Linked DNA regions of Homo sapiens: region 1 is linked to region 2. Evidence: fine-mapped QTL for protein levels in blood plasma. A gene starts in region 2. The other region holds a variant in brackets. All regions are shown on one strand. Distances are from middle to middle.

Region 1 (5,379 bases), 120 kb before region 2:
TAAAAAGGCTGAACATTTGAGGGTTTCACGTCCTAAATACATAACGGGGGAATTCTAGAAAGACATTTTCTATGAGGCTTTACTTTGCATTTATACCCCTTCCTCCCTCCCCTGTCGTTGGAATTTAAACTTACCTAAGCATAGAGAAATGTTTCCTTTCTGGTTTAAGATTTTATTTAGGTATGGGAACTTGTGAAAGTGTTGGAAATATAGAGTGGAAAGCTTTTTGTTTTTTTTCGTGGTTTTTTTTTTGGCCTTTAAGACTGTTTAAAAGAAGTATTTGTGGCTGACATAGAATGATTAGCAGTACTGAGAGGGGACAAGAATCTAGGAGACAAAAACAGGTGCATAAGTAGCTTATGTGACAGGTAACAGGAACACTGTCTTATCTTCCTGTTTAATGCAGAATTAAGCAAAATGCGGCCGGACACTGTGGCTCACACTTATAATCCCAGCATTTGGGAAGGCTGAGGCAGGCAGATCACTTGAGCTCAGGAATTCGGGACTAGCCTGGCCAACATGGCAAAACTTTGTCTCTACTATAATACAAAAAGTAGCCAGGCGTGGTGGCACATGCATGTAATCCCAGCTACTCAGGAAGCTGAGGCACAAGAATGGCTTGAGCCTGGGAGGCGGAGGTTGCAGTGAGCCAAGATCATGTCACTGCACTCCAGTAAGACTCTGTCTTTAAAAAAAAAAAAAAAAAAAAAGCAAAATGTGAGAACTTACCAAGTGTAAGTTGTATTTATTCTTTGAGAGTTCAGTGGGCTGGAGTGGCATGATACCATTTGATAGGCCTTGATATAAAAGAGCATATTCAAATAATGGCCTGCCTTAAGATTGATGGGATTACTATAGTACAGTTCAAGTCATTTGGGGGTTGGAAATCCTTTTGAGATTTGGGAATCTTATTAGGCTATTGACAGCCCTTTCCCTATTCTGTTGTCATTACTTCCAAGCCTTGTACATGAAACTTTGAGTAAGACATCAAAGATCCACTGAAATCCATCTATGGGGCTATGTAAAATCTCCTAAGTTGTGTTGTTAAATTTTTTCCACAGCTAGGTACCAAGATTGATTCTGCACCTATTTCTTCTAAGGATTAGAGGGGTTTTTTTGCTTGTGGTTTTTTTTTTTTTTTCTTTTTTACTTTGTTTTAAAGCCATGCTTGTTGAAGTATTATTCACAGACAATAAAACTCACCATTTAAAAAAAGTGCACAGGATTGTAGTTTCTAGTTATCTTTCTAAAGACTTTACATGGCCAGGTGTGGTGGCTCACACCTGTAATCCCATCACTATGGGAGACCAAGGTGGGTGGATCACTTGAGGTCAGGAGTTCGAGACCAGCCTGGGCAACATGGTGAAACCCCGTCTCTACTAAAAATACGAAAATTAGCTGGGTGTAGTGGTGTGTGCCTGTAATCCCAGCTACTTGGGAGGCTGAGGCAGGAGAATCGCTTGAACCTGGGAGGCAGACGTTGCAGTGAGCCAAGATTGCACCATTGTACTCCAGCCTGGGTGATAGAGTGAGACTCTGTCTAAAAAAAAAAAAAGATTTACACGGAAGTTGACAACCAATAGCATTTATCTATTCTTAGGAATAGAATATTTAACTATACAGGCAATTTTGTTTTGAATATATGCAGTGAAAATTTTAATGTATATTTCTACTTGTGTGTGTGTGTGGTTTTATAACTTTAACATATTTGATGATCGGTGGCTAGTTCTCATCCTCATTGACTGACTATAGATTTTTGAAAGTGGTAACAGGTACATAGGTAATCAAAATATGGAGCTCGTTTGGTGAATCTTCATTTTCATTACATTTCCTGGACAGCTGTTCACAGATTGTGGTATAGGACGTTCCTTATTCCTTTGGCCCAGACAACTTTGTTGAGCCTCATGTCAGTGAACACATCTCCTTCATAACAAATTTCCAGATCTCTTTGAATGCCCAGGGGCAGTCTTCTTGAAGCCCACTCCATGGATACCCTTGTAAATGATGATGCATTCTCAGGTCATCACCTTGTTGGTGGCAGAGCGGCCCTTCTTGTCACAACCCTTCTTCGTAGAAGCCATTCTACCAGGCCTAACTTGGAAAGGAAGAGCATGAAAGGATTGTCCCCCGATTTTTTTTAAGTTAAAAAATTTACCTGTATCATTTGTATGTGTGTGTATATAAATATTTATCACTTTGGCACTGTAGCTTTTGAAGAACATTTGTTGCCTTGACATTATTGTAGGTTTAGTCGGTATTGTTTATAGATCACAGGTGTTTAACTTTTGTAGTGTTATCTCTAAGAGTAATAAAAGTTAAGGTGGCATAAGGTAATCTGTGTGGAGACTAATATACTTAATTACTGAACAAATTGCTTTTCAGAAGAATTAAGAAGGATGTTTATTTAATTAAACTTATTAAATTGGCAATTACTTCCTACTCCCTGAACCCCTCCTCTACCCCTGCCTCCATCCAAGTTGCTATAAAGCTCTACTATCAGTGTGGCTTTCATTTAAAAACTAAATTTTATTTTGAGACAGAATCTTGCTCTTTTGCCCAGGCTGGAGTGCAGTGGTGCAATCTCTGCTCACTGCCACCTC[C/G]ACCTCCCAGGTTCAAGCAATTCTCCTGCCTCAGCCTCCTGGGTAGCTGGGATTACAGGCATGCGCCACCACTGCAGGCTAATGTTTGTATGTTTAGTAGGTATGGGGTTTCACCATGTTGGCCAGGCTGGTCTCAAACTCCTGACCTCTAGTGATCCACCTGCCTCGGCCTCCCAAAGTGCTGGATTACAGGAGTGAGCCACCGTGTCTGGTCCTAAAAGCTATATTTTAAATAACATATTAAACTGTCAACTACCTCCTAGTCCCTGAACCCCTCCGCTACCCCCACCTCCATCCAAGTTGCTGTAAAGCTCTATTATTATTAGTGTGGCTTTCATTTAAAAGCTAAATTTTAATGGTAGACATACTTTTCCTCCTGACTTCATTACTGAAGGTGGAATGAATTTGTTAGAATTCTGACTTAAGTATGAAGTAAAACATTTTTCGTATTGAAAAAATTTCATTTTTGTTTAGAAAATAAGTAGGTTGCCCACTGCACCGCCACCCCCCACCCCCCAACCTCCCGCTTTTTTTTTTTTTTTTTTTTTTTTGACACAAAGTCTCGCTCTGTTTCCCAGGCTGGAATGCAGTGGCGTGCTCTCAGCTCACTGCAATCTCCACCTCCCAGGTTCAAGTAATTCTCTTGCCTCGGCCTCCCAAGTAGCTGGTATTACAGGCACCCGCCACCACTCCCAGCTAATTTTGTTGTTTTTTCTTTTTTTTTTTAGATGGAGTCTTGCTCTGTTGCCCAGGCTAGACTGCAGTGGCACGATCTCAGCCCACTGCAACCTCCGCCTCCTGGGTTCAAGCAGTTCTCCTGCCTCAGCCTCCTGAGTAGCTGGGACTACAAGCGCGCACCACCGTGCCCAACTAATTTTTCTATTTTTAGTAGAGACGGGGCTTCACCATGTTGATGAGGCTGCTCTCGATCTCCTCACCTCGTGATCCACCTGCCTCGGCCTCCCAAAGTGCTGGGATTACAGGCGTGAGCCACCGCGCCCTGCGAATATTTTTGTATTTTTAATAGAGACAAGGTTTTGCCATGTTGGCCAGGCTGGTCTCGAACTCCTGACCTCAGGTGATACACCCGCCATGGCTTCCCAAAGTGCTGGGATTACAGGCATGAGCCACTGTGCCCGGCCACCCTTGTTTTTAATTTAAGGAATTATGTGTTGTATATTTTATCTTTGAATGGCAACGTGAGAGGTTTCTTAATTTTTGGCGTTTATAAAATGTGTCTGTGATCAACATCACATGGCAAATTCACCTATAAAACAGACAAGCACTTTTACAGAGTACTCTTCCTATAAGATATACCAGGATTTCCTCCTATGAAGTATTCACTTCACTCATGAAATATTTGAATGTCTTTTTGTGATTTAAGAATAGCTATAATCAGAGACAAAGATTAATGTGCTTCTGTGTGTATACCTCATGCAAAAGAAATTTACCAAATAAAAATTAAATTTACCTCATGCAAAGGAAATTTACCAAATAAAAATAAAGGGCATTTCACTCATAAATAGGTATTAACCTTATTTAAAAGAAAAACCAGGCCAGGTGCTGGGTCACGCCTGTAATCTCAGCACTTGGGGAGGCCCAGCTGGGATGATCCCTTGAATCTGGGAGTTTGAGACCAGCCTGGGCAACATACCGAGACCCTCATCTCTACGAAAAACTTAAAAATTAGCCAGGTGTGGTGGCATGCACCTGTAGTGCCAGCTACTCAGAAAGCTGGGGTGGGAGGGTTGCTTGAGCCCAGTGGTTGAGGCTACAGTGATCTATGGTCGTGCCACTGCACTCCAGCATAGGTGACAGTGAGACCCTGTCCCAAAACTAAAAACAGAAGCTCACCCCAGACAAACCTTGTTATATGTTTCAAACTGGAAACAGTAGACAAAAGCCTAAAATATACCACATAAGATAAACCTTCCTTTAGAAGAAATTGCTTAAGTTTAGTAGTAAATTACCATAAAATTTGTTTTCTATTTCCTGGCACCTGAAAAACATTTTCAAGGAACCGCCCTTTTAACTTTGCAGTTAGGCTAGGGCTAAGTGGCTCACGTCTGTAATCCTGGCACTTTGGGAGGCCAGGGCAGGAGGATCCCTTGAGCTCAGGAGTTTGAGACCAGCCTGGGCAACGTAGTAAGACCTCATCTCTACAAAAAATTTTAAAAATTAGCTGAGGGTGGCGGCGTGCACCTGTAGTGCCAGCTGCTTGGATGGCTGAGGTGAGAAGATCACTTAAACTCAGAAGGTTGAGGCTGCAGTGAGCTGTGATCATGCCACTGCACTCCAGCCTGGGTGACATAGCAAGACCCTGTCTCATAAATAAATAAATAAATAAATAAGAAAATTTGTAGTTAAACTGATGAGTAAGTAATTTGCTATAATTTACAGAAACTTACTTTGTTTTGCTATAGCTCTTAGAAGCTAAGGACACCTGAATTTGGTTTATATTGATGAGACGTACATCTGCAGTTGATATTATAATAAACTTACAGTTACTGTTCTAACAGCCTCTCCATTTGGATAACATGCATAGTATAATAATACAGCTACAGGAAAGATGGTAAAAACATAGACAGCTTCAAATTGTACATTTCCCAACCCCGTGTAGACTTAGAAATGTTTGCTTCATTTCACACTTTTGCTGTCTATGTATTTATGTTGGGCTTTAAATTCCACTCCAGGTAGAGTATGCACTGTGCTGTCTTCATTTTTCTAGCCTGCCTTGAGCAATCTGTTTTGTAAGAACCATTCGAGCTGTAAAAGAAGT
Region 2 (5,379 bases):
ATCTGGGCTGTGATGTCCTGTTTTGCATGATGATACCACTGGGGCAAACCAGGTAAAGGGTGCATGGGGATCTCTCTGTATTATTTCTTACAACAGTATGTGAATCTATAAATACCTCACAATAAAAAGTTGAATTTAAAAATAAAGGCCGGATGCAATGGCTCATGCCTGTAATCCCAACACTTTGGAAGGCTGAGGGTGGGCGATTGCCTGAGCCCAGGAGTTCCAGACCAGCCTGGGCAACATGGCAAAACCCTGTCTCTACAAAAATTTAAAAAATAAAATAAACCCATCCGGATAAGGTGGCTCATGCCTGTAGTCCTAGCATTCTGGGAGGCCAAGGGAGGACTGAGCCCAGAAGTTTGAGGCCAGCCTGGGCAATGTAGTAAGATCCCATTTCTACAAAAAATACAAAAATTATCTGGGTGTGGTGGCACGTGCCTGTGGTCCCAGCTACTCAGGAGGCTGAGGTGGAAGATCACCTTTAGCCCAGGAGTTGGAGGCTGCAGTGAGCTGTGATCACACCACTGCACTCCAGCCTGGGTGAGAGTAAGACCCTGTCTCTAAAAAAATTGATTAAAAAAAAAAAAACCCAATAGTAAGCAGATTTTAAAAGAAAAATAAAAGCCTGTGGGGGTGGGTTTTGGGGGCAATCAATGTGAAGGTAAATTTGAGGTCGCACCCAGTGCTGCAGCCGACTCTGCCTCCACACTTTGGCATCCTTGCTGTGTCCACCAGCAGAGAGGTGGTGGCTGGGCTGCCTCCACCTACCTTGTCCACACTTTCTCCTTCCTTCAGGGCTACGAATGGAAAATGGTAGGAAATCTTTAGTGCTTGATACACTGCTACATTCTGCCTGCCCTTATTTTTTTCTGGGCAGAATATTTAGTCCAGAGCAAGGTGAACCTGGTGAATGGCTGGGTTTTGTTACACTGCCCAAGAGGCTGAGGACTCCTCTCGAGCTGACAGCGCTGATTCGGCCTCCTGCTAATCTGTTTTATTGAGCAGAGCGAAGTGGACTGGTGAAAGAGGGTGGAATAATAGCAGGTGTCCCCCATCGGGTCTATTCTGTGTTCCTTCGTCTTTAAAGTAGCCTGTCCTGGGAGGTATCCTGAGGGTGGGTGCAGGTCTGCCTCCGTAGGAACAATCCCCACCATGCACGTCTCTCACGCCAAGCAGCTGATCTCACAAGAACACAATTACCCAGTTTTGCAAATGAGGAAACGAAAACTCCTCGTTTTGAAGGAAATGAGGAAATGGAGCAAAGCCACTGGAGACCCAGCCCCTAGGCTGGCGGGGAGCCCGAGCCTGTCCAACCCCAAACCCGGGCAGGAAGGACAGAGGTCGGGATGGAAGGCTGCCTCCTCAACTTACCCGCTGTGTGGCTTGGGGCGAGTTCCTTGCCCACTCTGTGGCCCGTGGCCTCGTGTGGGAAGCGGGACCATCACAGTGCCGGGCTCCGCGGGCTGCTAGGAGGACGCGCGGCGCACTGCGGGCCGGGAACGTGCTGCGCGCTGACACCGGGTCAGCTCCCTGTGATGGGACTTCCTTTCCAAAAACGTAGGCGTTTTCCCGGGTCGCAGTCGCAGTCGGGAGACTGAGGGTTAGGGCGCGGCCGCGGGGTCTCCTGGGCCGGGGCGCGGCCCACGTCTCAGGCCTCTGCGGCTCTGACCAGAAGCCGCTGCGCCTTTGGCCGCTTCCCACCCGTCCCGTCCCCGCAATCCCAGGCCCAGGGTTACAGCGGCTCAGCTCTCTTCCTCTCGCGAATCTGCACACTGCTTCAGTGGTCTGGACCCTGGCTGCATAGGCAGATCCCAAGAGGAACTTTTAAAACAAGGATCCTCTGACCCCACTCCCAAAGATTCCGGTTTCATTGCGTGGGTATCAGTATTGTTAAAAATGCCCTGGCCTCTCCTGCCTGACCAGGGTAGAGAGCCTGGGCTTCAGCTCCTCTCCCAGCAAGCTCCTGCAGGTCTGTGAGGAAGCCCCGCAGGAGGAGCAATAGCTTCAGGGCTGGGGAGATTCGTAAATTTGCCTCCAGATTGGAGACCCCATTTCATGTGAGGTCTCCACCCTTTTGGATGGAAGCTGGACATAGTTTAGTTGGTGGAGTTGCTTTGTTCTGTGGCCGGAGGCTGTCCAACCCTCCCCCAACCACTGTCTGGCAAGAATGGGTTGCAATTGCAATGGAAAAGAAGCTTCACAAGAGAAGGGCAGCATAGTTTTTACTTTCCATGAGCCGAAAGCAAAGAATGGAGCTGGAGGCATTTTGCTGTAGTTTCAGCCTTCCCAACAGTTTGCAGAAGAAGAGATGAGTGAGCCAGAGATGAAAGCTTCCTGAAGAACTTCAGTCCAACCTCTAGTTCAGAGGATATTATTAGCCATCATTTCAGCCAATGGCCAGAGAATGGGTTAAACATAGAAATTAAGGGTTACTCACGTTTGGCGGCATCAAGTGGCAATCTTGCAGCCAGGAGCAGAAATCCCAGGAAATAGTAGAGACATTCCATGCTGAATTCTCACGGACGCAGGCACTCAAGGTTTAACTCTGAATTCCTCTGGGCCCGTCCACCAAGAGCAACAGTGTTCTTCTGGCATCTGTGGTGCCTCCCTCTCTATTTTAATTAAATACAGGGCCTCGGGGAGGATCATGTGATGGTATTAAGCGGCACTGCCTGATCTGGTCTCTCAAGTTCAACCTCTTACAACTCATGTGCTTATGACTCACTCCTTCTTGGCATCTATTTATTCACTTTTCAGATGCACATTATTTCAATTTTGTGATTCCACATTTACTAGATTCAAGGAGTTTTTTTCCTATAGACTCTATTTCAATATTCATTTTTTTTTTTTGAGATGGAGTCTCACACTGTCTCCCAGGCTGGAGTGCAATGGCACGATCTCAGCTCACTGCAACTTCCACCTCCCAGGTTCAAGCCATTCTCCTGCCTCAGCCTCCTGAGTAGCTGGAATTACAGGTGCCCGCCACCATGCCCGGCTAATTTTTTGTATTTTTAGTAGAGGCAGGTTTCACTATGTTGGCCAGGCTGGTCTCGATCTCCTGACCTTGTGATCTGCCCGCCTCGGCTTCCCAAAGTGCTGGGATTACAGGCATGAGCCACCGCGCCTGGCTCAATATTCTTTACCAAATAAAATTTCAATCCTCCAGCCTCACTGATTATCGACTTACTGTGGTTCCTATACTGCATCAGGCACCCAGCTCACGTTTAGAGTTCACAGTTACGCACCCTTTCCTAAGATGTAGTTGTCCACCTGCTCCTGTGCTCGTGATTGCTTGTATATTTTTTTCCTCCAAGAGGAAGCAAAGATGGGGGAGGTGTCTTATCAATCATTTGAAATTGTGGAATACATAAGTGGATGATAACATGAATGTTGTGCCAGGATGTGCTGGAAACAGCTGCCCAGGCCTCTGGTAGCTGAGAAATTTACTCAAAAGCACATTTAGAATATCTGTGCAATTCCATATAACTTTTGTAATAACCTGCATAATTTTTGGTAACTGCTCTCAAAGCATTTATGTGTTGCATTACTCAGAGCCAATTGCATAAAACGTTCTGTGTATTTTTTCATATTATAGAAAGCAGGCATTAAATGTACAAACAAGTGTGTCTGTAAGATAAATTTATACAGTCAAATCATTCCTGGTTACAGAGTATGCAGAAAATGTGGCAACATGAAAACTTTACCATATGTGACCTTTCTCAAACTCACATTCACATGGCCATTTTCAGTGCAGTAGAAACCTTGGTTGCAGGTGAGGGTAAAACTTGGGGTATTGATTTATGGTTCAGTGTGTCAAGGAGGAATGGAAATAGCCTATGAAACTAAAATCCATACAGCAGGAGTGGCTGACTTCCATCCCTAAGGCGGCAAACAACTCTGTAGAGTGCCTTTTACAGCCTTTGCAGCAAATATGAAGGGGAAAACAACGAAAGGAACACATTATTCATGACTGAAACAATTTTCAAATATTGATGAATAAAGGAATAATGGAAATACTTATTAGTTTCATGTAATGTAAAGCGAATAATGTATATAGTTATTTGCTTTTTAAATTACTTAAAAACTTTTTTTTTTTTTTTTTTTAGAGACAGGCTCTCACTCTGTTGCCCAGGCCGGAGTGCAGTGGCATGATTATAGCTCATTGCAGCCTTGAACTCCTAGGCTCAAGTGATCCTCCCACCTCAGCCTTCCAAGTAGGTAGGACTACAGGCACACACCACCACACTCGGCTAATTTTTTATTTGCTTTTTATTTTTTGTAGAGACAAAAATCTCACTATGCTGCCCAGGCTGGTCTTGAACTCCTGGCCTCAAGTGATCTTCCCACCTCAGCTGCCTACAGCACTATTTGCTTTTTATGACAAACACATAACTTTTACAATTAAAAAAAAACACCTTTTCAATTTAAGGAAAAGCTACTATTAACATTTTTAAAGATATTTTTGTCCTTTGTTGCAGACACAGTTCTGGCTCATATTTCTAGCCAGATTAGCCACCCCGTCTCTAAATAAATTGGAAGTGTTAAATTCTTCTGTAACAAAACCTTCGTTTTGTTTAGGGAGACACAATGATCAAATCAACTTTTATGTCTTTTTTCCTTCCCTGCACCATCAAAGAGAAGAGGCACTGATAGGACAAGAGTCAAAATGTAGGCAGCTGGACAGAGGTGAATAAGAGAACAAGAGAAAGATCTTCATTCCAAAGAACTACAAGTTGGATAATCTGTTTCTTGATAATCAATGGTTGATAATATATAAAGTAGTTAACTCTATGTAGGACTCAGAGACAGGGCCATTTTGGGTAAAGAATATTCTCAAGCCTGTTTGTTTGTTTTGGAAAGATAAAATTATACTGTAAAGAAAGTTTGAAATATTTTGTTGAAATAATTTTTTGAGCTGGTGTACTGATGTGTACCTGAAGTCCCAGTGACTTCAGAGGCTGAAGCGGGAAGATTGCTTAAGCCCAGGAGTTTGAGTCCAGCCTGGGCAATGTAGTGAGACTTCATCTCTTAAGAAAGAAAGAAAGAAAAAGAAAGAAAAGAAAGAAAGAAGGAAGGAAAGAAAGAGAAAGAAAGGAAAGAAAGAAAGAGAAAGAAAGAAAGAAAGAAAGAAAGAAAGAAAGAAAGAAAGAAAGAAAGAAAAGACAAGAAAAGAAAAGAAAAGAAAAAAGAAAAGAAAGAAAAATTGTTCCGTTCAGATCCTAATTGCCAGGTCTGGTAAATATATTATATGGCTGGGGGGATGAAGGTTGCTAATCAACTCGCCTTAAGGCAATTGAGAAATGAAAAGGGAAACATCTCAATTATCTGGAATTACAGATACAATTACTCTGTTCGGAAATGATGTGGAGGAAAGCA

Alleles and levels. Positions count from the first base shown, and alleles are read on the strand shown. Strength reflects both the effect of a copy and how common the allele is.
For the plasma level of the protein whose gene starts at base 2,593 in region 2, allele C in region 1 goes with a higher level than allele G (weak association).

What was found. A credible set is the group of variants that fine-mapping cannot tell apart. PIP is the posterior inclusion probability: the model's chance that the variant is causal. Protein levels are from antibody-based Olink assays in UK Biobank. Linkage for the fine-mapping came from a reference panel and not from the study's own genotypes, which makes the PIPs less certain.
Region 1: its variant is the best candidate, but not a certain one, in a credible set for the plasma level of the GPNMB protein (UK Biobank, PIP 0.56).

What each region holds. Positions count from the first base shown.
Region 1 is chr7:23,362,320-23,367,698 of GRCh38, reverse strand. The region is part of intron 3 of IGF2BP3 (insulin like growth factor 2 mRNA binding protein 3); the gene reads left to right. Among named protein-coding and RNA genes, the nearest start is that of SNORD65C, 31 kb to the left of the region's middle. The variant C/G (reference allele first, on the strand shown) is at 2,601.
Region 2 is chr7:23,243,989-23,249,367 of GRCh38, reverse strand. It overlaps GPNMB (glycoprotein nmb), which reads right to left and starts at 2,593. Exons shown (of 11, transcript NM_002510.3): 1 at 2,441-2,593. The coding sequence starts at 2,510. RefSeq lists an enhancer at 1,022-1,141.